Linked DNA regions of Homo sapiens: all the other regions are linked to region 1. The links come from fine-mapping of genetic effects on gene expression. A gene starts in region 1. Each other region holds a variant in brackets. All regions are shown on one strand. Distances are between the middles of the regions.

The links. PIP is the estimated chance that this variant, and not a neighbour inherited with it, causes the effect. A credible set is the group of variants that fine-mapping cannot tell apart.
Region 2: its variant is the best candidate, but not a certain one, in a credible set for the expression of ABTB3 in esophagus mucosa (GTEx, PIP 0.61).
Region 3: its variant is the best candidate, but not a certain one, in a credible set for the expression of ABTB3 in esophagus mucosa (GTEx, PIP 0.84).
Region 4: its variant is the best candidate, but not a certain one, in a credible set for the expression of ABTB3 in whole blood (INTERVAL, PIP 0.69).
Region 5: its variant is the best candidate, but not a certain one, in a credible set for the expression of ABTB3 in whole blood (INTERVAL, PIP 0.56).

What each region holds. Positions count from the first base shown.
Region 1 is chr12:107,314,632-107,320,674 of GRCh38, reverse strand. ABTB3 (ankyrin repeat and BTB domain containing 3) reads right to left here and starts at 2,241. Exons shown (of 17, transcript NM_001018072.2): 1 at 600-2,241. The coding sequence starts at 1,734. RefSeq lists an enhancer at 1,020-1,739.
Region 2 is chr12:107,377,919-107,382,918 of GRCh38, reverse strand. The region is part of intron 1 of ABTB3 (ankyrin repeat and BTB domain containing 3); the gene reads right to left. Among named protein-coding and RNA genes, the nearest start is that of ABTB3, 62 kb to the right of the region's middle. The variant C/T (reference allele first, on the strand shown) is at 2,857.
Region 3 is chr12:107,399,196-107,404,195 of GRCh38, reverse strand. The region is part of intron 1 of ABTB3 (ankyrin repeat and BTB domain containing 3); the gene reads right to left. Among named protein-coding and RNA genes, the nearest start is that of ABTB3, 83 kb to the right of the region's middle. The variant G/C (reference allele first, on the strand shown) is at 2,635.
Region 4 is chr12:107,663,339-107,669,381 of GRCh38, reverse strand. No RefSeq gene overlaps it. Among named protein-coding and RNA genes, the nearest start is that of PWP1, 19 kb to the left of the region's middle. The variant C/T (reference allele first, on the strand shown) is at 2,450.
Region 5 is chr12:107,466,844-107,471,843 of GRCh38, reverse strand. All of the region lies in intron 1 of ABTB3 (ankyrin repeat and BTB domain containing 3), which reads right to left. Among named protein-coding and RNA genes, the nearest start is that of ABTB3, 150 kb to the right of the region's middle. The variant C/G (reference allele first, on the strand shown) is at 2,542.

The sequences.
Region 1 (6,043 bases):
CCGACAAGTCTTCCCGCACCCCAGTCTCACCACACACACCTTTACGACTGTCTAGGCCGTGCAAGCTTTCAACCATTCAGCCGGTACGGCCGCCAGGCCCCTCCTTCCCCCGTGCACTGCGTGCCCCCCGAGGGAGTGGGGAAGTGGGAGCACTGGATTGCGGAGAGCGGAACGCGCCTCCTCCCAAGTCCTAGGGAGCCCAATTCATGCGCCCAGGGAAGTGGCATCTTCAAGGTCAAAACAAACAGTGCAGGGGTGGAGTATATGTACTAAGCGCAAATGATCTCAACCCTGCTCCAAAAAATGGTGCTGGGTTTTGCTCACTGCCTGCTGGAGGCAGCTGTCGCCCCGCCCCGCACCGGGGGCGGAACCTCGCGCTCCCGGACCTGGGACAGCACCAGCAGCGTGAAATACGCGCACCCGAGTGCAGGAGCAAACAGGCAACCTCTTGTTCTGGCTACCTCCAGCCCGGCCGCCTCCTCAGCGGCTTGGGACAGCAGCGCGTGGCTGGGAAGACGCGGGAGGGGGACGCGAGGCAAACTTGCGCCAAGAGTTGGCCAGGTTAGGTGAGAGGGAGTGGCACCCGCGCAGACACTTACCGCTGGCGTTCTTCCCGCAGATCAGGTGCTGGTAGGGCTGCAGGAGACCCCAGATCTCCGAGTCGTTGTTGACCGTGTGCTCCAGGGTCTCCACGGTGAACTTGGGCGCCTCGTGGAGCGCATGGTGGTGGTGATGGTGGTGGTTGGCGGCGGCTGCCGGCGGGACTGCGGCGGCCGCGGCGGCCGGCGGGGCGCAACAGCTGCTGCCCCCGCTGGCGCTGCTGGCTGCGCTGCAGGCGCCGCCGCTCGCCGCTCCTCCCCCGGGCGCCTCCCGCTCTTTATCCGCCGCGGGGGCCGCACCAGGGCCCGAGCTCGGGCCTGGGCCGGAGCCCGAGCCTGACCCAGGGCCACTGCAGCTCCGGGGCACCCCGGAGGCCACGACCCGCGAGTAGATGTCCCGGAAGAGGCTCTCCATGCAGGCTGTCAGGTAGATGGCGGCGTGCTCGTGGATGCGCAGCGCCACGCGGCTGTCCACCATCCAGCGATACACGCGGCCCACGGAGAAGGTGAGGCCGCAGCGGGCCGACTTGCCGCGGCCCAGGCGGTCGCCGCCGGCGCTGCTCATGTTGTAGAGGGACAGTGCGGCCAGCGCAGCCGCCGTACAGTGCGCGGCCAGGCCCCAGGACAGCACGATCTCCATGGCGCTCTGGATCTCGTACTTGGTGCACTTGGCGAAGCGCAGGCTCAGGCGCTGCGCCTCTTTGGCTATGCGCACCAGCGCCCGGCTCACCAGCGTCGACAGCTTGGCCAGCGCGTCCTTGGGCAGGCCGCCGGGGACCGCCGGGCCTGCCCGGGGATCCCGCGAACGCAGCAGCAGCGCCTCCAGCTCCTGGAGAGTCCAGGGGACCTCGTCTAGGTCCGGCAGCAGCCGCGAGCAGTGCTGGCCGGCGCAGTCCAGCCCCTCGGAGTCTTCCACCAGGGCAGTGTTGACAGTGTCAAAGCTGTTGTGCCGGCTGTGCATGGAGTCAGCTAGAGGCGGCCAGCAGCTCCCGCCATACGGGGACGCCGGGTGCGAGTCGGAACAGCACAAAGACAAGTTGGAGGAGCGCACCGAGTCCGCCGCGCCACCATAACCCGAGTCCAGCGTCAGATCCTCCAGCGTTCTCACCACGGGCTTCTTACCTCTCCTGGCCATCGCTGCGCCACTTCATGCTGCAGCCGCCTGGGAGCCAAAGGGAAGGAGCGGCGAGGAGCAGCGAGTGCCGCGGGGCGCGGGGAGAGCCGAGTCCGCGCCGCCTTGGCTCACTTTTCCACTAGCCGCTGCTACCAACTGTTAGTACTTTCGGCTGCCTCCCGGAACTGCCGCCGCTGGAATATACAGAGCAGACCCTGGAGTCATCTTCCAGAGTCCGGGCCGGAGCTGGGCGCAATGGGGAGCGAGCCAGGCCGGGAAGGAAGCTCCCGCCGGGGCTTGCCCCTTTCTTCCAAAATAAAAAGTGTCTAGACCGCTCTTCCCTGAGCCCCGCTGGGCGCAGTAGCCACCGGGCGCCGGCCACGGTGTTCGTGGGACTGAGACCACCCCAGATGCCGCCGCCGCCGCAGCTCCGCGGGCAGCTGGCTCCCGGCTCCCGGCTCCCAGTTCCCGGCCCTGGTTCGCTCGGCGCCAGCCTGCCCTGCACCGGAGCGCAGCAGCGGCCGTGGCGGCTGCAAACCTTGCCGAACCCCAGCAAACCCCGGGCAGCCAGTGGGACGGGCGTATGCAAAGCAGGGGCGGCGGAGAGCCAGTGGAATCGGAGAATGCTAATTACCTCGCTTTTTTTTTTTTTTTTTAAATCCCTCCTCCCCATGCGGCCCCGCCCCTCACACACGCCCCCGGCGGACACCGAGGCTGCAGGAAGTGGGGAGCAGTGGCCAGGGACTTGGGGAACCCTTGCAAGCGTAGAGACGTGGATGCTGCCCCCTGCTGCTGTCCCTGCCCGCATTCTCCCGGAGGGTGGTGGGTTGGGCCGGTGACCTCCCCACCTAGGTGTGCTCTCCACCGCGGTTCACAAGGTGTCTGCCTGACGGTCGCTCTCTCCCCTGCGGTTCGCATTTCACTTTTTTCCCCCCGTAACACCTGAAACATGGTTTTCCTCCCTCTCTATTCCCACTTCGGGTACGCAAACCAATTAGTGCGGCCCTCTTTCAGCCGGGGTTTGCTCCAGCATGGAGGGAAATAAGCCTGTCGAGCGGAGGCCCGTGGCGGTGGACACCACTGGGAGGCCGGATCTCCGGCCATTCGCCACCTGCCACTAGGGCGCGTTAACTCGATTCCTTTCAGTAGCCAGGAGGACCCTGTCCCTGCTTCAAAGTCCTGGGCGTGTGCTGCAGGGAGGGCTCAAGCACCACTTTGCCATCCTGGTGGGCATCTTTCCAAATAGCTCGGCCTTCTTAAAAGGAGTAAATTTGCTCAAAGGAGAATCTTCTTTCCTGACTAAAGAAAGATATAATATATATATGCATGGCTTAGCTGCATTCCTGTGTCAAATAGCATCGTGTCATCTACTTGTCTGTCCCCACCCACCCAGGCAGAAACCATATCTTACACACATGGGGATTCCTAGCTCCGCACACTGTGTCTCTCAGCTTAGAATCCCCTCCTATAGGAAGCTGGCCCAGATGTTTCAAGACTGGCTTCGGTGCTTCCACTGCCTCTATCCCCTTCTGTGGTTGCTGATTTCTGGGCCCTTGCAACACTAGGTTGCAAAAGCCTGGTTACTTGTCTGGATTCTACACTGGGCTAGGGGTTCCCATGCATAGTCCTGGCACAGTATAAGTGCTCAGTAAATATTTGTTGTAAATTGATGAAGGACGTAAGGATATGCTTTTAAATTGTTGCTTTGAATGTTCAACAATGGCCAACAGGTATATGCAAATATGCTCAACATCACTAATCATTCGGGAGATGCAAATCAAAACCACAATGAAATATCACTTCACACCTGTAAGGATGGCTATTATCAAAAAGTCAAAAGATAACAAGTGTTGGCAAGGATGTGGAAAAAAGAGAACCTTTGTACACTGATGGTGGGGTGTAAATGAGTACAGCCATTATGGAAAACAGCATGGAGGTTCCCAAAAATAAAAATAGAACTACCATGTGATCCAGCAATCCCACTTCTGAGTATACACCCAAAGAAAATAAAATCTCAGTCGAGTGCAGTGGCTCTCGCCTGTAATGCCAGCACTTTGGGAGGTTGAGGCGGGCAGATCACTTGAGGTCAGGAGTTGGAGACCAGCCAGACCAACATGGTGAAACCCCATCTTTACTAAAAATACAAAAATTTGCCAGGCATGGTGGTGCACACCTGTAGTCCCAGCTACTCGGGAGGCTGAAGCACAAGAATTGCTTGAACCCAGGAGGCAGAGGTTGCAGTGAGCCAAGATTGCACCACTGCACCTCAGCCTGGGTGACAGAGTGAGACTCCATCTCAAAAGAAAGAAAAAAAAAAGGAAAAGAACATCTCTGTCTTGAAGGGAGAGATGCACTTCCATGTTCATTGCAGTTTATTCACAATAACCAAGATGTGGAAACATATCTAAGTGTCCATCCACAGATAAATGGGTAAAGACAATGTGGTGTGTATATATCTGCAATGGAATATTATTCAGCTCTAAAAAAGAAGGAAATCCTGTCATTTGCAGTAACATCATGAACTTGGAGAATATTATCCTAAGTGAAATAGGCCAGACACAGAAAGACAAGTACTGCATGATCTCATTTATACGTCGACTCTTTAAAAAAAAGTTGAACTCATAGTAACAAAAAGTAGAATGGTGGCTACCAGGGGCTGGAGTGTGGGCAAAAAGGGGACAATATTGGTCAAAGGCCACAAACTTTCAGTTGTAAGATCAATATGTTCTGGAGAGCTAATGTATAGCATGATGACTATAGTAAATAATAACATGTTATATACTTGAAATTTGTTAAAAGAGTAGTCTCACATGTCCTCATCACACACAGAAGGTAAATATGTGAGGTGATGGATCTGTTATTTAGCTTGATTGTGATCATCATTCACAATGTACATGTATGTCAAAACATCACATTATCCACCCTAAATATAGATAATTTTTATTTTTCAATCATACCTCAGTAAACCTGGGTGGTGGTGGGAGTCAATAGACTTTCTCAGATAATCTCATGAATTGTCTCATGTTTCTCATACCAGTGAGCCTCAAATCTGCCATTGCCCTATAGCTGCTATGCTCATATACATGCTGATCACCTCCCACTTTGACTATTATACTTTCCTACCAACTGGTCTCCTGTTCTCCTGCCCCTACCTTCTCCAAACCATCCAGCCCAAGAATCTTCTGAAAGCCTTGTTTTCATTTTATCATTTTTTGTAATTATCAAAAAAGAAATTCAAAGGCTCTCCATTACCTTCCAGATAAAGTTTCTACTGATTAGCTGAATTTCAGGGATCTGTTTCCAGATCTCACTGTGTTTCCAGACTCTTTCCATAATATCATAAACCTTTATAAGGGATGGATGGCAAGGATGTGGAGAAAAGGGAACCCTTGTACATTGATGGATGGCCAGAATGTAAATTGGTACAGCCATTGCAGAAAGGAGTATGGAAGTTCCCCCCACCCAAAGAAAAAGAATAAAAATGGAACTACCATATGATCCAGCAATGCCACTTCTGAGTATATACCTAAATGAAATAAAATCTCTATCTTGAAGAGATATTTGTACTTCCTCTCTAGGGTCTCATCACCCCAGCCTTCTGAACACACACTCACACTCATGTAGACACACAGATATACACAGATACACTCACACACCTACACACAGAAACATGCATGCACTCATAGGCAGGCATACTCACATACGCATGCACCCTATGCTGCGGCCATCCTGAAATCGCTTGCTGATTTTCCAAGGTAACATATTGTCTCTTGCATCTGATATGCCTTTGCAAATGCTGCTCCCTTTGCTTGTGGCATTCTTCTCGCACCTCCACTTCTCCATCCTTCCTTCTCAACCATTAATGTTCAGATCCAAGCTTAGCTCCACTGTGTTTTCCCTGATGCTGCCTCTTCTCCACCAGCCCCGACCTGGGAAGGTGTCCCATTTCTGAGCTTAGGGCTTGTTCCCAAGGCCTTTCTCTCTTCTCTGTATGTTTCCCTGGTGATCTCACCTACCCCATGCCTTCAGCTACTATCATCTATCTAAAGTGATGAACACTCAGTAGAATGCAGGCAGCAAGAGAATCCTCATTTTCTCCATGAGGGAAAAACCTCATGGAGAGGGAAAAAGGGACTGAAAGCAATGGGCTGTATGTTGACTCTTTCACCAGGTTGACTTGGGTTCCAGTACTATCTCTGCTGCTTTTCCAATCGCGTATCCTGAAGTCGCTCATTCAATCCCTTTGCACATCTATCTCCTTGCCTTTGAAATGAACAAAGTAATCGCACTCACTTTATAGGGTTTCTGGGAGTGGGGAAGGGGGATTAAA
Region 2 (5,000 bases), 63 kb before region 1:
TTAATTATTATTATACTTTAAGTTCTGGGATACACGTGCAGAACATGCAGGTTTGTTACATAGGTATACACATGCCATGGTGGTTTGTTGCACCCCTCAACCCATCACCTACATTAGGTATTTCTCCTAATGCTATCCCTCCCCTAGCCCTCCACCCCACAACAGGCCCCAGTGTGTGATGTTCCCCTCCCTGTGTCCATGTGTTCTCATTGTTCAACTCCCACTTATGAGTGAGGACATGCAGTGTTTGGTTTTCTGTTCGTTTGTTAGTTTGCTGAGGATGATGGTTTCCAGCTTCATCCGTGTCCCTGCAAAGGACATGAACTCATCCTTTTTTATGGCTGAACCCTATAGTCTCAGCCCAAAATCTCCTTAAGCTGATAAGCAAGTTCAGCAAAGTCTCAGGATACAAAATCAATGTGCAAAAATCACAAGCATTCCTATACACCAATAATAGACAAACAGAGAGCAAAATCAAGAGTAAACTCCCATTCACAATTGCTACAAAGAGGATCTTTTAAAAAGGAGCCAAATCCCACCACACGTAGAAACATCTAGTGGCTTTGCACCCAAACCCCTTCCCTTGACAGACAAGCCCTGTGTGCCAGGTCCTGGCCCATCTCTCCTAAAGCCTCCCTCCCCTGGGCCCACTATATGGCAAACACACTTATCCTTGCAGGCCTTCGAAAGCATCCAAACTCATTCCTAGTAAGTCACCTCCTCCAGGGGGCCCTTATGGAATGCCCAACCTGAGGGAGTCCCATCACCTTTATACATCCCCACTCTAATTCTCTTCTTGGTCTTATTGCTGGCCAATTTGTTCTTGTTAATTTATTTCTTCATTTATTGTTTTTTTCTGCCCTAATTAGAATGCAAGCTCCATGGTTTAGGTATGATTTGGTCACGACTGTATCTCCAGCCTGGAGACCATAGGGGGCTCAATAAACATTTGTTGAATGAGTTATAATAAATTGCACATATAGAGTAGTTATTACATGCCAAGAGCTATCTCTGCGATTTACATAAATTAGCTCATTTAATCCTCCCAATGCCCTGCTGAGGCTGATCCTATTATCATCCCCATTTTACAGCTGAGGGAGCTGAGGCAGGAGAGGTTAAATAACTGCAAAGTCACAGAGCTGACAAATAACAGAGCCAGGATGCAAATCCAGAGGTCTGGCCTCTTAGTCCATGCTCCACACACCACACCATGCTGCAGTCAGAATGGTTCCCCCTGCCCTTAGGATACAGCCCCAACTCCTGAAGACAATGTGGAAGTGTTTGATGAACAGATCTAATCTCCTTTCCAGCCTCATCCATTGCCATTAATTCCCTGACACTGCCCAGCCCTGAGGAAGACGCTGCCCTCTCTAGTCTCTTGTATCTGCCCTTGCTGTTCCTACCCGGAGCTCTCCTCTTTCTTGGCCAACTCCTTCCTCAGCCTTTGGGTGCCAGTGTAGGCAGCCCTTCATTAGGAAGCCCCTTTGCATACCTCAGGCTGGATCAGATGCCCACTTGGCATCCCCAGATTACTCTGCCCTTGCCCTAACCCTGTACACAGCACACTCTTGTGGGGCATGTGTGTTCACCTGTCTGCAGAGGCTCCACATCCATTCATTTGTTTCAGCAAGTATTTAGCACATGCCCCTGAGTGCCCAGCCTGCACTTCTAGGTGCTGGGGAGACAGTAGTGGGCAAACCCAAGTCTCCACCTATGCAGACCTATCTTTCTAATAGAGGAAACAGACCATAAACAAAAATGCAATATAATATCAGGGAGAATGATGAAGACAAAGGCAGAATAGAGGAAAAGAGAGTAATGATGGGGGGTGGGTAGTGTAGACAGAATGGTCAGGAACAGCTATGCATTCATTAAACCAGTGGTCTCCAAACAGTTTTGATCACACATCCCTACCATTCTTATATATACCTCTCTGATATGTGACTATATATTTAATTATAGATTATACCAAACCTATAACTGAATATATAGTATAATATTAGAGACATATACATAGCATATATAACATTGTATATAATATACTGCTGTACTACCATATAATATAGGTCATTATAAAATATACATAAAGTATATAAATACTAAAAGGATGAGAAAAATGTTCTAAAACATTCCTCTTGCCCTTTCGTGCACATTCACGCATGTACCCTGTTTTAGAGACTATTGTGACAGAATGGCAGCTCAGCTCAGGGTTAAAAAGAAAAATGCAGACAAAGAAACAAAGCCACTCCCTGATCCTTGCTAATTACACTCAGCAGGCACCCCAAAATAATTTGTCAAATGACTCGGCATGGGGTTCAGTAGATGCTAGGTAAATCAGCCTTAGACAGGTCATTTCCTAATTCTTGGTGTCAGTTTCCCCATCTGTAAATACAGGGCGTGGTCCTCTTTCAGACCACACAGAAACAAAAACCTAGGTTCAGGTTCACTCAGCCTGTTCCCTGACCAAGAAGGGGCCAACTCAGTCATGTTGGGACACGCAGCCAAGTTCTGGTGTGGGCGGGGCTTTCATCTGCTGGCTTTTTATTGATTTTTACTGGTTTACATGGAAGGAAAAGAATGCAAACAAAGAAACAAAGGCACTCCGTCCCTAATCCCAGCAAATTATACAGAGATTCAGGAGAGTAATGAAAACCATAAAGCATGCTCTGAAATAAGAGCTCCCAATCTTCCATAATCTTCGGTGATAAAACGCAAAGCAGCAGGCCAGTGACACCCATTCGTAAACACTGGTTCTGTTTACCAGCGCTCAGTTCAGAACACGTTTGCTGGTGCTGAGAACCTCTACTGCTGTACTGCACCCCGGGAGTTAAGGGCAGGTCTTTTAAGGGTCACAGA[C/T]GAATCACAGCATCGCGCAATGCCAGGGCTGCAAGGGGCCTGAGAATCTGTTCCGCTGGAAGGTGGATAGATGGCTGCAGGTCTGCTTTCCTTCTGAACTGCAGCCAGACACAACACTGTGAGGTGTTGGGGTGAATATAAGCCCATCGTTCAGTTAAGGAACTTGAGCCCAGATAAATCAACCTGATCCAAGGACATGGAGCAAGGAGTGGAGCCGAGATTCAAAGCTAAGGCTTCCTGGCAGCTTGTCCAACTGACCCTTGTTCTTCTAGAGGGCTCTGTAAGCTCCTCAAGGCTGAGTCAGTCTTTGTCATCTCTCTGTTTCCAACTGTCCCAGCACTAGGCTTTGCTGGTAGTGGGTAATGATTAATATTGAGGAAGGAAGAAAAGGAATGAGAGAGGATGGGATGTGGGGGATACTCAATTTGTGGCTGGTGTATTGGTCCATTTTCATACTGCTATGAAGAAATACCTGAGACTGGGTAATTTATAAAGAAAAGGAGGTTTAATGGATTCACAGTTCCACATGGCTAGGGAAGCCTCACAATCATGGTGGAAGGTAAAGGAGGAGCAAAGGCACGTCTTACACGGCGGCAGGCAAGAGAGTGTGTGCAGGGAAACTGCCCTTTATAAAACCATCAGATCTCGTGAGACTTCTTCTCTATCACAAGAACAGCACAGGAAAAACCCACCCCCATGATTCAATTACCTCCCACCAGGTCCCTCCCATGACACGTGGGGATTATGGGAGCTACAATTCTAGATAAGATTTAGGTGGGGACACAGACAAACCCTATCAACTGGTCTACTAACACCAAGAGCAATGCCAACAACCAGGACCATTTATGGAGCCCTTACTCTGCACCAGGTGGAGCAATGTGTGCTTTAAATGCAATGTCTCACCTACTTTTCCACCAACCCTATGGGAGTTTACTATTATCCCAATTATATAGAAGGGCAAAGGGAGGCTCAGAGAGGTTCAGTAAATTGCCTAAGGTCATTCAGCAGGTACATGGTAAGTCCAGGATGTCAACTTTGATGGCTCTGGTGCTTAACCACTACACCACACTGCCTGCTGCTGTGAGCAAAAATCAGGCTTCTTAAATTCCTTCTGGCACCATCTGTTACTCTGTGCTACAAAAGCAGGGGTGGCTCTCACATCAGATGCAGGCAGAATCCCAGTGACTCCTATTTTACAGCCTCTTAGGGAACCCCAATGCTTGTCCACAGGGCATGGCATGCAGCCAAAGACCCATCAGGGGACGTTTTCACAAGTGACAGAAGATCCATTCTTAGTCCCAAAGACAGAGGGAGCCAGCACAGTTGTAGGTTTGGGCATGAACAGTCAGGATGCGTTGTGACAAGGGAAACAGGGAAGGCGAGCCAGTGTGTGGAGGCAGAACTAGACAGCTCAAGGGGAATGAGGGCCGTAAGGGGACAAGGTGAGAGCCAAAAACATGAACTGGTGGGCTTCTCCAGGTGGAGGGGACTAAGAGGATGGGGTGCATTGTTGGACAGCCCTAGCTCCCCTACTTACTTGCTATAAGACCTTGGACAAATTACCTATGCTCCCAGAGCCTCAGATCCTCATGTATAAAATAGGACAGTATCTGCCTTATAGAGTTGTTATAAGGATGAAATACCATAGTGTACATAAATTGCTTTAAGCGCAGGTCCTGGCATATGGTGAGTGCTCAATAATTAATAGCAATTTGTGGTGGCAGTGGTGCAGTCATTGCCAAATGATGTGCAAAGTAAGGGGATGAGCAGGGAAGATGCCAGGAGGAAGCAATCCCATCATCCCCCAATATTTAAGTGACTTGAGGTTAAGAGACCATGTCTGCCTATAGCCAAGCCAAAGAAAGTGGTTAAGGGACATGCCCAAGGTTGAGTCACAAGTGTTTTCTGGACAGGGACCACAGCTGAATCATCTAATATTCCAGCCGTTGGCATTGGCTTTGCACAAAGGAAGCACTCCACTGGTGTTTGTGAAATTTACACATGGCTTGGTCTCCCGAAGTCCATAATGAGATTATGTTCCCCACTTTTTCGCTTTGCATGGTTCCCTTTTACTTCCCTACCAGATGATTCACTTATCTTCTTCCCACCCTTCTTGAGCGTCAAGTGTGTGTTGTGGTCCTTCT
Region 3 (5,000 bases), 84 kb before region 1:
TCTTTTCCTTTTTTTTTTTTTTTTTTTTTTTTTGAGTTAGAGTCTCTCTCTGTTATCCAGGCTAGCATGCAGTGGCGTGATCTCAGCTCACTAGAACCTCTGCCTCCCGGGTTCAAGCAATTCTCCTGCCTCAGCCTCCCAAGTAGCTGGGGTCACAGGGGCCTGCCACTACGTCCAGCTAATTTTTGTATTTTTAGTAGAGACGGGGTTTCACCATATTGACCAGGCTGGTCTCGAACTCCTGACCTCAGGTGATCCACCTGCCTTGGCCTCCCAAAGTGCTGGGATTACAGGCGTGAGCCACCGCGCCCGGCCATATGCTGTTTACTTCTGATTTGGGTAGGGGGGCAGGAAAGGAGGGTCTCTCCCTGGCATTTTTAGAGTTCCCTAGGAAATATGTGGCCCTTTGGAGAGGTGGACCCTCCAAACTTCATTGTCTGAAGTTTTCCTCTGCCCTCTGGGATCTGCGACTTTCAGCTAAGCCTGACTGCAAAGTGTTCCCTGACCATTTGGTCTGTGCTCCCAGATAGCTGTAAGTTTTTAAAAACAAGAATAATGTATCGGTGGAAGCTTTTGTCAAGGATAAGGTGAATAACATTTATGAAGTGTACTGTTGACACACAGTTTACAGACATGATCTCATTTTATTCTCCCTATAGCCCTAGGAAGTATCACTAGGTATCTGTAGGCCCATTGTGGGAAGAGTAAACTGAGGCTCACAGGAGTGGTGAAGGCACTCCCTGGGCTGAGGTAGCTGATAGGGAGATGTAGTAGCTGGTAGGAAGCTTTAGCACCCATCTGCCAAGCTTCCTATGGATTCTGGAAATAGAGCCCGGTGAAACAACCCATTACATTTTCGGTCTGTGTCATTCCAGGCACAGGGATATTATAATGAAGAAGGCCTTATGCAAGTTCAGGTCTGTCACTAATGGGCCATGGGCGATATGAACATTTCTCTGCCCTTACCAGGCCTTGGTTTCCTCATCTGTCAAACGGAAGTAAATGGGGCCCACTTCACAGGGAGCCAGGAGGATTCACTGATATACGTGATCTCTAGACCATGCCTGGGATATTACAGGTCCCTCATTAAAGGGTATTCACACAATCGGAATGAATGACTTGGGTCCGAGGCCTGTGGGAGCCCTCTCCACAACCTGGAGCAGATGGAGGAGAAGAAGGAGCAGGATCCATGTCTAAGACATGTTGTGGCTGGTGACTACTGTACTCCTGTCCCACCTCCCAATAGCACAGCCTGGGGGTGGGTGGGGGGACAAGCCAGCAGCAGGACAGACTCAAAAGCCACTGTCACTATCCTGGAAATAGTTGGTCCACAGGTATTCAATTGACTGGGCCAGTCATAGAGCTGCAAATCTAGAAAGAGGAGGAATTTAGGAGGTAGCAGAAGGGGCAAGGATGTCATTAGTTAGGAATTCTGTCTGCAAGGCCTGGCTTCAGGTGAGGAGAGCTGGCAGGCCCACAACCTCCCACCAGTCAGAATCCTGGCGGCGGAGGCAGTGGCTTGAGAGAGGTAATAAAGCAATGTTTAGGGAGCCAGGGGAGCTGCAGCTTGGTTTTGGCACTAGGGGGAGCAAGGTGCAAGACTGAATAAGAGCAAAAAGCCCCAGGAAGCCATTTGCAGGCCAGTAGCCGTGGCTGGAACATGGCTTTCCATCCAGGTGAGGAAGGAGATGGGGTACCATATCCCAAGGGCCCTCCATTACTTCACTTTATCCTCAAAACAACCCTAGGAGGCAGCTGTCAGGAGGACCACTTTACAGATGAAACAGCAAAGGCTCAGAGAGGTTAAGACTCAGCCTCTTAGGCGGTCAAGCCAGATTTGGAATCTGGGCCTGCCTTTCTCCTGGGCCATCCTTTGCCCACATGAGAGGCAGTATCGTTAAGCACATAAGCTGCAGGGTCAGACTGCCTGGATTCACATTCCAGCTCTGCCACTCAAAATTGTGTGGCTTTGTGTAAGTGATTTAACCTCTCTGAGCCTCAGTTTTCCCATCTGTAAAATAGGGTTGGTACTACTACTAAGAGTCCACTTTCCATTGTTGCTGCACTTTATTCACTTTATTGAATAAAGTAACTAGCACATAGCAAAGATGAAGCAAAGCAGCAAATGGTGGCTGTTATCATAATTACTTTTTTACACCGATCTCCATCAAGACCAGCTTAGGAGTCGAGATAGAACTGGGCTAACAGGCAGGGAGGCTTCTGAGGAGGGCAGAGGGTAGGGAAGCAAGGCAGGAGAAGGCAGCAAAAAAAAAAAAAAAAACCCTAAGCGGTTGTTACCTACTATATAAAGAGAAGAAGCTGAGGGTAAAAAACTCTACACACATAGGATTTTAAAATGAAAAAGATTCCTTTTATTTCTTATTATTTTGCTTATTATGTTATTTTCTTATGTATAAAGCAGTGATGCTCAGACTCTAGAATTTCGTCAGTCAGGAATTTCTCCCCCACATGGAGATTAACATTAGGGGCCAAATTTGTGTTATGTCAAAATGCCAGAGGCAACCACTGATAATCATCTTCATCATTTTGGATTTTTTAAAGGACATTTTAACCCCAGGGCATCCGCTCAAGATCAAGCACCAGCCTTTAAATTTAATACATTTTGCATCATGG[G/C]AGCACTCACTACTGTGCCATTATTTCTGTCTCTTTTTGCCAGACTACTGAAACCTTGGGCAGTGACTGACCCCCTGTGATGGGGTGTTCCTGGTATTGAATATCCCCCATCCCGCCACTTGGGAATGCTGGTGACTGGAGAGGTGTCCATTTCCTATAATTACTGAGTGTTAATATAATCACCAAAGCGGAGAGCCAGCTGGAAAGGATGGAGTCTGACATCCGAAAAGACAGACAGCTAAATAAGTCATACGGCTTGCAGACAGCCTGGCTGCTGGGGTTACGTAATCACCTCCCCTTGGCTTCCTTTGGTTGGTCTAGTTCTTGGTTTGGCCTTTTTGTGCTTTTGCTTTCTGAGGCTGAGCCTCTACAATAGGCAGAGAAAATATTGCACATGAAAAGGAACCCATTGGGAAACATGGTACAGACAGCCACCTCATTTGTCTCCAGGCTCAGAACCAAACCCCAGGTTTCCATGAGAGCTGAGATGCGGCCAGGAGACAAGTCTTGGTACTACGTGGTCCTGCATGTGAATGTGGACATGGTCATCAGCCTGGCACATGTGGGTAGGAGGTAGGGACCGGCCCTTCTCAGATGGCTGATCGCTCCTCGACAAACTCAGTTAATGCATTTTAATTTGACCAGGGCCTTTCGAAACCAGGCTGCTTAGGGAGGCAGGAAGTAATCAATTCACTGCCAGTCCATTTTCCTCTGGGCACCGGATCTGCTTGTACAAACCAGCGAAGGGAGATTAGCTTGAGCATAGCTCAGCAGTGAACTGGGTAAAGGTCACTTCACTCAGGTAGCACTCTTGCGGGGGGGTGTAAGTCTCTCTTTGTATACTTTGCGTGTCCCTAAATAACAGCCATAACCAATAACAATGGTAACACTGACCACTTACCACATCCCAGACACCATGCTCTGAGTACTTCATCTCACTGAATGTTCACACATGGCAGGAAGTAGATCCTATTACAATTCCCATTGTACAGGTAAGGAGACTCGGGCTAGAAAAGGCGAAATTCAAGCGAATGGCCACATGCATGCAAACAGACACAAATGTCACTGTACCTGCTCAGCAAACATAAACAAGAACAGAGAAATCATGACTCAGTGTTTCTCAAACCCACCTGTATATAAGGGTTACCTGAGTACTTGTGAAAAACACAGATTCCTGGGTCCCCACCTAGAGCTACTCAATCAGAAATCCCAGTGGAGAGGCCTGGCAACCTGAGTTGGTCATGAATGCCCCCTAAGCATCTCATCATGGGCCCATTTGAGTGTTGATCATATACATATCATCGAGTAAGTTAAAATATGTAAAGCAGAAATACCATTTGACCCAGCAATCCCATTACTTGGTATATACCCAAAGGATTATAAATCATTCTACTATAAGGACACATGCACACGAATGTTTATTGCAGCACTATTCATAATAGCAAAGACTTGGAACCAACCCAAATGCCCATCAATGATAGATTGGATAAAGAAAATCTGGCACATATACATCATAGAATACTATGCAGTCATAAAAAAGAATGAGTTTGTATCCTTTGCAGGGACATGGATGAAGCTGGAAACCATCATCATCAGCATACTAACACAGGAACAGAAAACCAATCACCACATGTTCTTACTCATAAGTGAGAGTTGAACAATGAGAACACATGGACACAGGGAGGGGAACATCAGACACTGGGGCCTGTCGGGCTGTCGGGGGCAAGGGGAGGGAGAGTATTAGGACAAACACCTAATGCATGTGGGGCTTAAAACCTAGATGACAGGTTGATAGGTGCAGCAAACCATCATAGCACATGTATACCTGTGTAGCAAACCTGCACATTCTGCACATGTAGCCAGAACTTAAAGTAAAATAAAATAAAATTTTAAAAAATATGTAAAGCATGTGGGCCAGTGCTGGACACAGAATCGTAGCTGCTATCATAGTAGTAGTAATTGTTATCATCATTTTTTGTCAGGTGATTCCACTCATTCTTTCAGTCAATGAGCTCATGCCCAAAATGAGGGGGAGATGGGTGCCTGGACTCTTCTGCATCCTTGGGTCCCCCTGTTACCAAGTGTTCTCCACTCCCAGCCCTGAGTATGAGTCTGGTGTTCAAAGACAGAGGCAGAGCCAGGTTTGAACAATGGAGGGAATGGGTTTGGGGGGTGGGGTGCTGTGCCCCTGCTTGGGGAGCTTCTCGAGATCCTGTTTCCACAGTGTTCCCTGACATCCTTTGTTCACGATCCTAGCAACCATTGTGGCACTGTGTTACTTAAATATCTTCAAAAAAGAATCACTCTTGGAGAATGTGCTCAGTGGGTACCGCTGCATTCCTCTTCTCCAGCCAGCTGGGCTTCTG
Region 4 (6,043 bases), 350 kb before region 1:
AGCACTGTGCCTGGCTTGATCATATTTTTCAAAGCAGTGGAGAGGAGAGAAGCATCTTATTCTCTCCCCTCTCTCTTTAGAGGAGGCATTGTAACTGAAGAGGCACCACAAAGAGTTGGGCTTAGAGGTCAGGTCAGCCTAGGTCCACATTCCCTCTCTGCCACTTTTTAGCCTTGTTGCCTCCACCTCAGTTTCCCTATCTGTAAAAATGGGAATCAAAATTCTTACCATATAGGATTTATTATGAGAAGGAAGATAAAGGCATATAAAGATGAGCACAAAATATAAAGGAATGGAAAAGAACAGCCTCCCATGTACTGAAAATCGTCCATGATGTTTCAGTCACATAGAGGCATCTCCGATGCAGCACACAGAGGCATGGCATTCAGGCATCATTTCCACTGCCTCTGGGATGAAATGTGACAACTGGCTGACAGTCACATAGTCACATTCCCTCCCGAAGAGCTCAGAGCAGGAGATGAACAAAATGCTGGGGTCCTCGGGGACTCTGGGGAATGAGGCTGTCAAGAGAGTGCCGTGAATCAAACTGGAGCCTGGTGGATGAATCCTCATACTCCAGAGTAGACTAAGAGTGCAGCCAGTAGACTGCCTCAGGCTGATGGCTTACAGAGCCACTGCTGGCCTTTGGGGACCTGAGGCTGCTGGGGAGGTGAAATTAACCAACCCATGATAAAATCGGAGGTGGCCATGTCCAGGGCACAGAAAATCCCTCTCTTCCCTCTTGCTTCTCCCTGCATTTTGACAGAGCTGTCCCTTACCACCATTGCTGCAAGAGTGCCTCTCCATCACCTGTCATGTTAATGTAATGACATTCCCATTCTGCAGGAGGGAAGACTGAGGCGGACAGGAGACCTCACTCACCAGCCACTTATGCCAAACCAATGCATGACTCATGGTTTTTCTTTGTTGAGTCCAGTTTAAAAAATGCATATGAGATGTGGTGGACGTGTGCAAATTCACATACCTGGATTTCATCCCACTCTCAAAAATGGCCCTTCCCTAACTTGATCGTTTTGCTGAAATGCATTTTTTTCTTTATAAAAAGAAGTTCTATTTTTCAGTGACCGAATTGCTTCTAGCTACTTTTTCCCTTCCCAGCTGGTAAGGTTTTGTGGACAATTTTTCTTCCTTCTGTATTAGATAAGTAAGAATAATGAATTGATCCGCTGCCTCACAACCTGATGAAGATAAATAGGGTGGCGTGCTGAAATAAAATGCAGCAGTGGCCAAAAAATGAAGGCTGGGAGGTCATTACAAATTCTACGTAAGCTATATCAAGATTGATATTCATTTTCTGAGGCCAGATGATGTGTATCAGAAGGAGAGAACTAGTAACGACAACACCCCTGAGTTGTCAGGAACCTTTAAATTCTACACTCCCTTTATTGCTTGAATCTCTATCGAGGGGTTGGCTAGCATTTTCTGGAATGGCTCCTGTCATGGAGAACTCACTACTACCTCCTCATTCCATCTTTGAAAAGCTTTGCTCTGACTGTTAAGAGTTCTTATTTATACTTAGGTGAAATCTAAATCCTTGAAGGGTCTGTCGCTGGGACAGCTCTTATCCTTTTTATGATACTGAACAAGCTAGTTCCTTTCTTTTCTTTTCTTTCTTTTCGATGGGGGTCTTGCTCTATTGCCCAGGCTGGGGTGCAGTGGCATGATCGCTGCTGACTGCAGCCTCTACCTCCCAGGCTCAAGTGATCCTCCCACTTCAGCCTCCAGAGTAGCTGGGACTACAGGCATGAACCGCTGCACCTGGCTAATGTTTTTAAAATTTTCTGCAGAGATGGGGTCATACTGTGTTGTCCAGGCCAGTCTTGAACTCCTAGAAACAAGCAAACTTCCTGCCTCAGCCTCCCAAAATGTTGGTATTACAGGCAGGAGCCACCACACTCAGCCCGATTCCTCTTATCTATGAAGCCTGTTCTGCTATTTGAAGACAACTAAAATTAAGATGGTCACCTAAGTATTCTCTCCTACAGGCCAAACATCCCAGTTCCTTTGGCTGTTCTTTTTTTTTTTCTTTTTGAGTCTCGTTCTGTCACTCAGGCTGGAGTGCAGCGGCATGATCTCAGCTCACTGCAACCTCCGCCTCCTGGGTTCAAATGATTCTCATGCCTCAGCCTCCTGAGTAGCTGGGATTCCAGGTGCCCACCACCACACCTGGCTAGTTTTTGTATTAGTATTTTGTTTTTTTGTATTAGTAGAAATGGGGTTTCATCATGTTAGCCAAGCTGGTCTCAAACTCCTGACCTCAAGTGATCCACCCACCTCGGCCTCCCAAAGTGCTGGGATTACAGGCATGAGCCACCACGTCTGGCCCCTTTGGCTGTTCTTTCACCTTTGGTTACTCCCTTCTGATGAGGCTGCATTTTCTCTGTGACTTTCGTCAAGCACAGGGGCCATTTGTCATGTTCATGGCTAC[C/T]CACCATCTTTCTATATTTGTAGAAATCACACAGTAGATTTCCTATCTCCCTAATGTAGTGGCAAGAACTGAAACTGCCAGCCTCCCTACAGCTAAGGTGCAGGCATGGGACCTAGGTTCTGCCTGTCAGATGTGGATGTACCCAGTGAAATTTTGATACTAAAGGGCCAACATGAGGAGATGGGAGCTTCCATTATGTAGTGCAAGTAGAGGCAGAAGCACTGAGCTTTTTCGGGTCGGCTGAGTTCCTGATGTAGGAATGACACTGGTGCTTGTGGAAAGAGCAGTCACTGAAGCCAAGTTTCTGGGAGCTACAGAAATGCCGTTAGTGATTTCTGCCTCCATATCATTTGGTGGAAGCAGTGGCAGCAATGAAGACAACTAAAATTAAGATGGTCACCCAAGTCTTCCCTCCTACAGGCCAAACATCCCAGTTCCTTTGGCTGTTCTTTTTTTTTCTTTTTGAGTCTCACTCTGTCACTCTGTCGTGGTTTGTAAGTTATTCCAAAAGGCTCTGCCTTTAATAGTTTCTCCAGCCTTCCCAACAACTGTGTAATCCTCTAATAGTTTCGAATAAACCCTCTTTCTTCTTAAATGAACCAGAGTTGCTTGCTGCTAGAAACCTTGACTCATACAGGACATGACCTGAGTGCATAATTCCAGCAGAGAGCCCTCCAGTGCACAGAGGAGCACCATCACCTCCATCATTCTAGCAATCATGCTTCTATTAATGTAGCCCACAGCTACATTATGGGCTTCTAAGCAGCCACATTATGCAGCTGACTTACATTAAACTCACTGGTCACCTGAAATCCTCACATTTTAGGGGCAAGGAATCATTCCTTGGCTCAAGGAATTTCTAGAAAAAACAGACTTCATTTACTTTCTCATTACTTATTCAACAGAAAACACTATCTGAGCTTTTCCCTTCCTCAAACAAAATATTTAATGTATGAAAGCAAGTCCTTTGAAGTGCCAAAAATGCAGTCGTTCCCTTCACAAGTAAACAAAATAATGAGTAATTATGGATTAAAATCCTACCACTTTTTCTTCTTCCCCACCCACTCATTCCCCATAGCATACAACTGAGAAGTATCAGGGTCACCCAGCAGCCATTTTGAACCAGATACTCCAGCGTCCCTCTCCATTATCAAAGTGTTGTGAAGTGAACAGGGAAGGGGCAGCAGCTTTGATTATTCCCTTGTTGATTCTCCTGGGTGTCCCTGCCACCCCAGGGGGCTCTGTGAGTGCAGAGAGAAGCCTCGAAGCATAGTCTGAAAATAAACAGGAATCTTTTCTTTTCCTTCTGCCGCCAACCCTGAAGGAAACAGGACAAAGAAAAGGGATGAGGTCACCTTTGGTTACCTTTGGTTAATGCCATTGCACAGGAGTGGGTCTCTCATTTATATTAGGGCATCAGTAAATACCCGTGAAATAAATAAACTTGATTTAGATAAACAACAGACCAGGGAAAAGTAAGGTAGAGTGAGGTTATGTGTGAGTAATTCCTTAGCTTAATTCAGACTGTTAGAGCCCTCCACCTAGGAAGACAGGATTACATTTATTTATTTTTAAAATTATACTTTAAGTTCTAGGGTACACGTGCAGAACATGCAGGTTCGTTACATAGGTACACATGTGCCATGTTGGTGTGCTGCACCCATTAACTTGTCATTTACATTAGGTATATCTCCTAATGCTATCCCTCCCCCCTCCCCCCACCCCACGACAGGCCCCAGTGTCTGATGTTCTCCTTCCTGTGATTTGCTGCACCCATCAACCTGTCATCTAGGTTTTAAGCCCCGAATGCATTAGATATTTGTCCTAATGCTTTCCCTCCCCTTGCTCCCACCCCCCGACAGGCCCTGGTGTGTGATGTTCCCTTTGCTGTGTCCATGTGTTCTCATTGTTCATCTCTCACTTATGAGTGAGAACATGCGGTGTTTGGTTTTGGAAGATAGAATTTCAAATGATTTTTTTTCAGATGCATTGTGAAAACGTCTCCCCTGGGTCAGAAAGAAAGGCTCGTAATAACCCTCAAGGTTGAGACTCCAGAAAGGCCAGGTGACAGAACAAGTGTCACAGGTTGGCCTGGCAGCAGAAAGGGTTTGAGATGAATCTCTGACTTCCAGACTGCACACCTTTGCTACTCAAAGTGAGGTCCCTGGACCAGCAGCAGCAGCAGCAGCGCTGGGATGCTTGTTAGAAACAATGAATTTCAAGCCCCACCCCAGCCCCATGGAGTCATTTTAACAAATTCGAGAAGCACTGCCCTACACCATCAGTGAGATGTCTAGAAGTCATCAATTACAGAAAGACCTAGTTTGGGAGCAGCCTGGACAACATAGTATGACCTAATCTCTACAAAAAATAAAAAAATTAGCCAGGCGTGGAGGCTTCCACCTGTGGCTACTCTGGAGGCTGAGGTTGGAGGATAGCTTGAGCCTGGGGAGGTTGAGGCTGCAGTGAGCCGTGACCACGCCACTGTAATCCAGCCTGGGTGACAGAGAAAGCCCCTGTCTCTCTCTGGTTAAAAGGTGACAGGATACCGGGGAATGCTACTCATCAATGAAAAGGAACAAGCATTCCATACGTGCAGGCTCCTTGGATGGGTCTCTGAGGCATTCTGCTGGGTGCAAAAAGCCAGTCTCGCCGTTTGAGGTGCTAACACCCGTAATCCCAGCATTTTGGGAGGCTGAGGCAGACAGATTGCTTGAGCTCGGGAGTTTGAGACCAGTCCTGGCAACATAGCGAGACCCTGTCTCTACAGAAAATTTTTTTAAAAAGTGATCTGGTAGTGGTGGTGCATGCCTGTTGTCCCGCTACTCAGGATACTGAGGTGGGAGGATTGCTTGAGCCCAGGAGTTTGACACCAGCCTGGGCAACATGGTAAAATCCCTATCTCTACAAAAATAAATAAATAAATAAATAAAAATTAGCTGGGCATGGTGGCTCATGTCTGTGGTTCCAGCTACTTGGGAGACTGAGTCGGGAGGATTCTTGAGCCTGGGAGGCGGAGGTTGCAGTGAGTTGAAATCACACCACTGCACTCCAGCCTGCGCGACAGAATGAAACCGTGTGTCAATAATAATAATAATAATAAAAACACCAATCTCCAAAGGCTGCTTACTATATGGTCTCATTTACATAACATTCTTGAAATAACAAAACTATAGAGATGGAAAACAGATTAATGGTTGCCAGGGGTTTGGGATGAAGTTGGTGGAGGAAGGGCCAGAGTGATTCCAAAGGGGTAGCATGAGGGAGATCTTTGCGGTGAGGGAAGAGTGACAGTGGTGGTGGTTACACGAATCCACACGTGGCAAGATGTCACAGAACCATACACACACATTGTAGCGATGTCAACTTCCTGGTTTGGATATTGTACTAAATTTATCTAAGATGTTACCATTGGGTTACTCTGTACTATCTTTGCAACTTCCTGCGAATCTGTAATTGTTTCAAAATAAAAAGTGAAAAAAAAAAACCCCAAACCAAAAAGGAGATGGTAGTCATGTAGCAATGATCTAGAGAGATGCCATCTTCATGGTGAGATAGGTGAAGCCTCATTCTAACGCTTTTATCTGGTTTCCT
Region 5 (5,000 bases), 150 kb before region 1:
AGCTTCAGAGCAAGGGAGCCCACAGTCTGAACTCTAGGCACGGGGGCAGAGTTAATGCCCACTCAGCCCCTGAGCCTCACCACGGCTCTGTGAGGGGTGTTCTTCCTCCTGTTTCATAGAGAGGACACTGCCTGACCTGGGGGGTCATGGAGGGGAAGCTGCTTCTGTGTCTCTTGCCAGGGATGCCAGGGTCATTTTGTAATGCTCCTCATTTGTAAAAGTTACAGATTGCAGGCAAAGCTCACACCAACCTCAAAGTACTGCTACTCTAAGGATTAAATAGAATGAAACAGAGAAAGGGCTGGGTACAGAACCTGACACACAGTAAGGGCTCAATACCTATAAGCTGTTATTTTTACTACAACTACCTCCTCTCTTTTCCTCTCCCTTTTTCTCCTCTTGACCTGCAATGGGAGCCTGTACTTCTGTACCCAATCCTAAAATTCTAGGAAGATGAAAAGCCAACTTCTATTCTGGAAGATTAGGTTCACCCAGATAATCCCTTATGTTCCCAAATCTTGTGACCTCTCTTATCTCCACCACTTGCTGGTTGTGTGGCCTTGTGATGGTTACTTCACTTCTTTGTGCCTTGGTTTCCTCATCTGTAAAATGGGGAAATAACATCTTTTATAGAGTCCTGGTGAGAACCATTGAATGAATATATTTAAATGCTAAGAATAACACCTCACTAAAAGCACCATAGAGGGGTTTGTTATTCTGAAAGTGTATGCGGAAAACGCTGAGCACTGACTATGCACTTGCAGCCCCATCCATCAAGCCACGCAGCAATTTATTATTTATCAAATGCCCCCTTCGTGCCTGGCATGCTCAGTACATCACATCTGTTCTCTCTGACAACAACAACTGCTCTAAGGGGCTGGGGATACAGTTGGGAATAAGACGTCCACATCTCACCCTCCCTTTCCTGTCACCCCCAGATTGGCCCAAGATCTCATTTCTCCCAGCTGGCTGGTGAGGTGTCGGGCTGGCCCCAGCTTTCCAGATGGCTTGGCACCTTCTCCGTTCTGGGTGGGATTCCACTCCCCTCGCTCTGGCCACCATCCCAAGTATCAGGGGCAGACCTTCCCCACTGAGGCCCAGCCAGCCAGAGCCAGGCATTGGGAGAGGTGCCACCAGGCCAGGGTCGGTTAATTTTGTCTTTAATTAGCAATCATGATAAGTGACGAGGCCCAGCGGTGACCCTGCAGATGGCAGTGTGCTCTGCTCCGAGTGACAAGTTGGGAGCATCCAGGTCTATGAAGGGTCCATGCTGGTTCCTGTGGCTGCACTGCCCACACCGTGACCCTGGGGATGGGGGTGGCTTGGCTGACAGCCAGGCCCTCCTCGGGGCAAAGGACACTGGGCCCGAGTGAAGGTGGGGAGGGTAGGCTCTCAATGTTCCCTGGGACCCCAGACTGGCTCATCCCAACCAGATTATTTGAGAGGAAGGAACTAAATATTTTTGAGCCCCTACCATAAGCACCTTGCTAAGAAATCACAAGGATCAGCCAGGCACGGTGGCTCACGCTATAATCCTAGTACTTTGAGAGGGTAAGGCGGGTGGATCACTTGAGGTCAGGAGTTTAAGACCAGCCTGGCCAATGTGCTGAAACTCCATATCTATTAAAAACACAAAAATTAGCCAAGTATGGCCATGCACGCCTGTAATCCCAGCTATTTGGGAGGCTGAGGCATGAGAATCACTTGAGCCTGAGAGGTGGAGGTTGCAGTGAGCCGAGATTATGCCACTGCGCTCCAGCCTGGGTTACGAAGCAAGACTCTGTCTCAAGAAAGAGAGAAAGAAAGAAAGAGAGAGAGAGAGAGAGAGAGAGAAAGAAAGAAAGAAAGAAAGAAAGAAAGAAAGAAAGAAAGAAAGAAAGAAAGAAAGAAAGAAAGAAAGAGAAAGAAAGAGAGAGAGAGAGAAAGAAAGAAAGAAAGAAAGAAAGAAAGAAAGAAAGAAAGAAAGAAAGAAAGAAAAGAAAGAAAGAAAGAGAAAGAGAGAGAAAGGAAGGACGGATGAACAAGGATCATCACTGCCATTTGAAGTTGCCATTTTTGTAGATGAAGAAAAATTGAATATTGACACTTCTTCAAATGATTCAAGCTATTATTACCTAATAAGTGCTCGTGTGTGCCAGGCACTGTCCTTATATTAACCAGTCAAATCTTCACAACCACCCTATGAGGTGGGCACTGCCTGCTGCTGGGGGAACCTCAACTCTGTGGCTTTGTGCTTCAGAGTTGAGGGCTTCTTTGAGAACAGGCCAGTCTGATGCCTCGCCCTCTCCACCCCCGTACATGACGGGCACTGTCCTAAGTAACCGACATGCATCACCTAACTTACTCCTTATGGGAACCCCATCAGATGGGTGCCAGTGCTGTTCCCATTTTAGGGATGAGAAAATCAACTCTCAGAAAGGCTGGACAGCTTGTCCAAGGTCCTGCACCTAGCAGAGGGCAGAGCCAGACCAGGATTTGAACCCTGGGCTACCTGGTTCTGCATTCACGCCTCTATTGGTGAGTCAGCAGATGTGAGGGTTA[C/G]AGGAAGCTCAATTCCACCCCTTCCTCCCACCTCTGTTTTCTGGTTTTGGGAGCCAACCACCCACAGGAAACACACATTCTGCTTCTGGGGTCCCATCAGAAGCAGATGTCTGCAGGGGAGGCCTGTGGCCGTCCAGAGCTGCTGGTGGCCGGAGTGGGGTGAGTCACAGTGTCTCATGCCGGGGTCTGTGTTTGGAATCCCACTTCAGGCCCCACAGGTAGCCACATCCCTTAACCCAGCCCTCACCCATCAACAAGGGGATGTTGTTATCCTTGTCTTCCTGCCTACTTTTGCGGGTGTGGGAGGACAGGTGTTATTTATCGAACCTCTGAAATCCCTACAGTGATCAGCCCCCTTTCACAGATGAGAAAGCTGAGGCACGGAATGGTTGTGTGACCCGGATGTGAGCCTTCAAGGTCATACCACCCTGCTCGTGTCTGCTGTACCACATCATGGGTTAAGATGCCTAGAAAATGGGTTGCATTTCTGCCCCTATATCCTGCTCCATTTTTTTCATAGCACTCGACATCATCAGAAGTTATAGTATTTATGTCTTTATTTACTTATTTTTTCCTATCTTGTTCATCTTTATATCTCCTTTGCCCAAAACACTGCCTAACACACAGTAGGTGCTCAATAAATACTTGTGGACTACTAAGAAATGGGCGCTCCCTTCCACTGAGTATGGAATGCCCCTCAGCTCACAATCCGCAGCCCGTCTTTATAGATGGTTCTCTCTCACCCAGCCTCAACCACAGTGGATCTTTGAAGCAGCATTGTTTGTTTTCAAGGTCACCCTCAAAGTCTCCCGTGCCCAGCTGGCAGCTCCCAGCAGCAAGCTACTCACACGCAGGTCCCTGGCTATCTGCAACTTCCTGTGGCCCTGGTGGTCTCCTGCTAGAAGCTGGAGCGCCTTTAAACTCTTTATACTCACAAGGCCACTGACTGGTCAGCTTCCCTCTCTCCCAGCATAAGAGGGAAAAGAGTGCCTACCTCCTGCCAGGCCCACAGAAGTGAAAAATAAACACCCCAGCCGGCTGGCTCCAGCTCACCTGCACTCTTGCCAGGGAGTGCTTGGTCTTCAGATTTTCCCCTTTTTTGCTTGATTAATACAACACCAATTCCCTGCTGCCCAGCCTTCTGGGAGGCACATTTTGCCCTTAATTCAGCTGACCTCAGCTCGTGAGCTAAAATCAGGGAGCAGAGGATGACTGGCGTTTCTCGGTTGTGAAAACCATGGATGCATTTCAGCAAAGTCTAAGAATCTTTCAAGCCAAGGCAATGACGAGGGGTCTCTGCAGGTGCCTCCTTTTCTTCTTCCTGCACATGGGGAGAGGGGGGCCTCTTCTGGTCTCTAAATGGAAGCGGATCACATCTGGAGGGATCAGTTGGTGGCCACATCTTGAGCCCTCTGAAGCCAGGCAAGCCTCTGTTGTTTGTTTAATAGCGGTCAGAGAAAACGTGTGGGAAACAGTTCTTAGTAAACAAAAGGAGGGACCTTTGATGTAAACAGAAGCATTTTCTCCTGGTCTTTTCCCTAAAGTCCCTGTCTCTGACAGAGATAGGCAGGAAAAAATGAACTTTGCTTCAAGAAGCTGGTTTCTCTGGATCCCTGAGTGGATCATGATATAGCTGGGTCTTGATGTGTGTTGGCATGTGTGTGTGAATGTGTGTTTGTGTGTGTGTGTATGAGTGCATGCACATACATGTGTCAGTGGCTGTGGAGTAACGCAGAATCCAGGTGTTTCCTAAGCGGGTCTCGAAGTGGCTTCTGCCTAGAGTCAATAGGTGAGATTCAATTCGTGAACAATTATCAAGTGCTCTGGTTGTTGCTGACGACAAGAAGGTGCCAAGGCTGTCAGGAGTTTACAGGCTATCTATACCACGCCAGGCCACACCAGGCTTGTGGGGGACAAGGGATGCCTGCTGGGATCACTGGCCAGAGGTAGGCACGGCTGCTGCTTGTTGGAACGGCACATTCTACAATAACAAAATACAAAGGCCCGTTTTCTTGTGGGCCCCAGCTAAGCCGAAAACAGACAGCTGTGCGGATGACTTGCCCACCTCAGCTAGGTGGTCAAGGCACCTCAACTCTTCAGACAGCAAACTTGAGACCACACTCTCACACCAAGGGGTTTCAGAGTTTGGGAGCTCATTATACCAACAACATGGACAGCTCCCGTTTATTGAGGTTTCACCACGTGTTGGCTGGACAGTTCTGAGCCCTTCATTTGAATACCCTGACTTTTATCCTCCTCAAAGACACTGTGAGTTAGACACTACAATAGACAATCACATTTCCAATGCCCTTGGGGCCAGAGGTGTTTCAGATTCAAAATTCTTTGACTTTCAGAAAGACGATATGGTGAACATGCTGTGCCTTGAATGCCCCCAACTTCTCTCACTGTCCAGCCAACTCCTATCCATCCTTCAAAGGCCACTCAAATGCTTCTTCCTC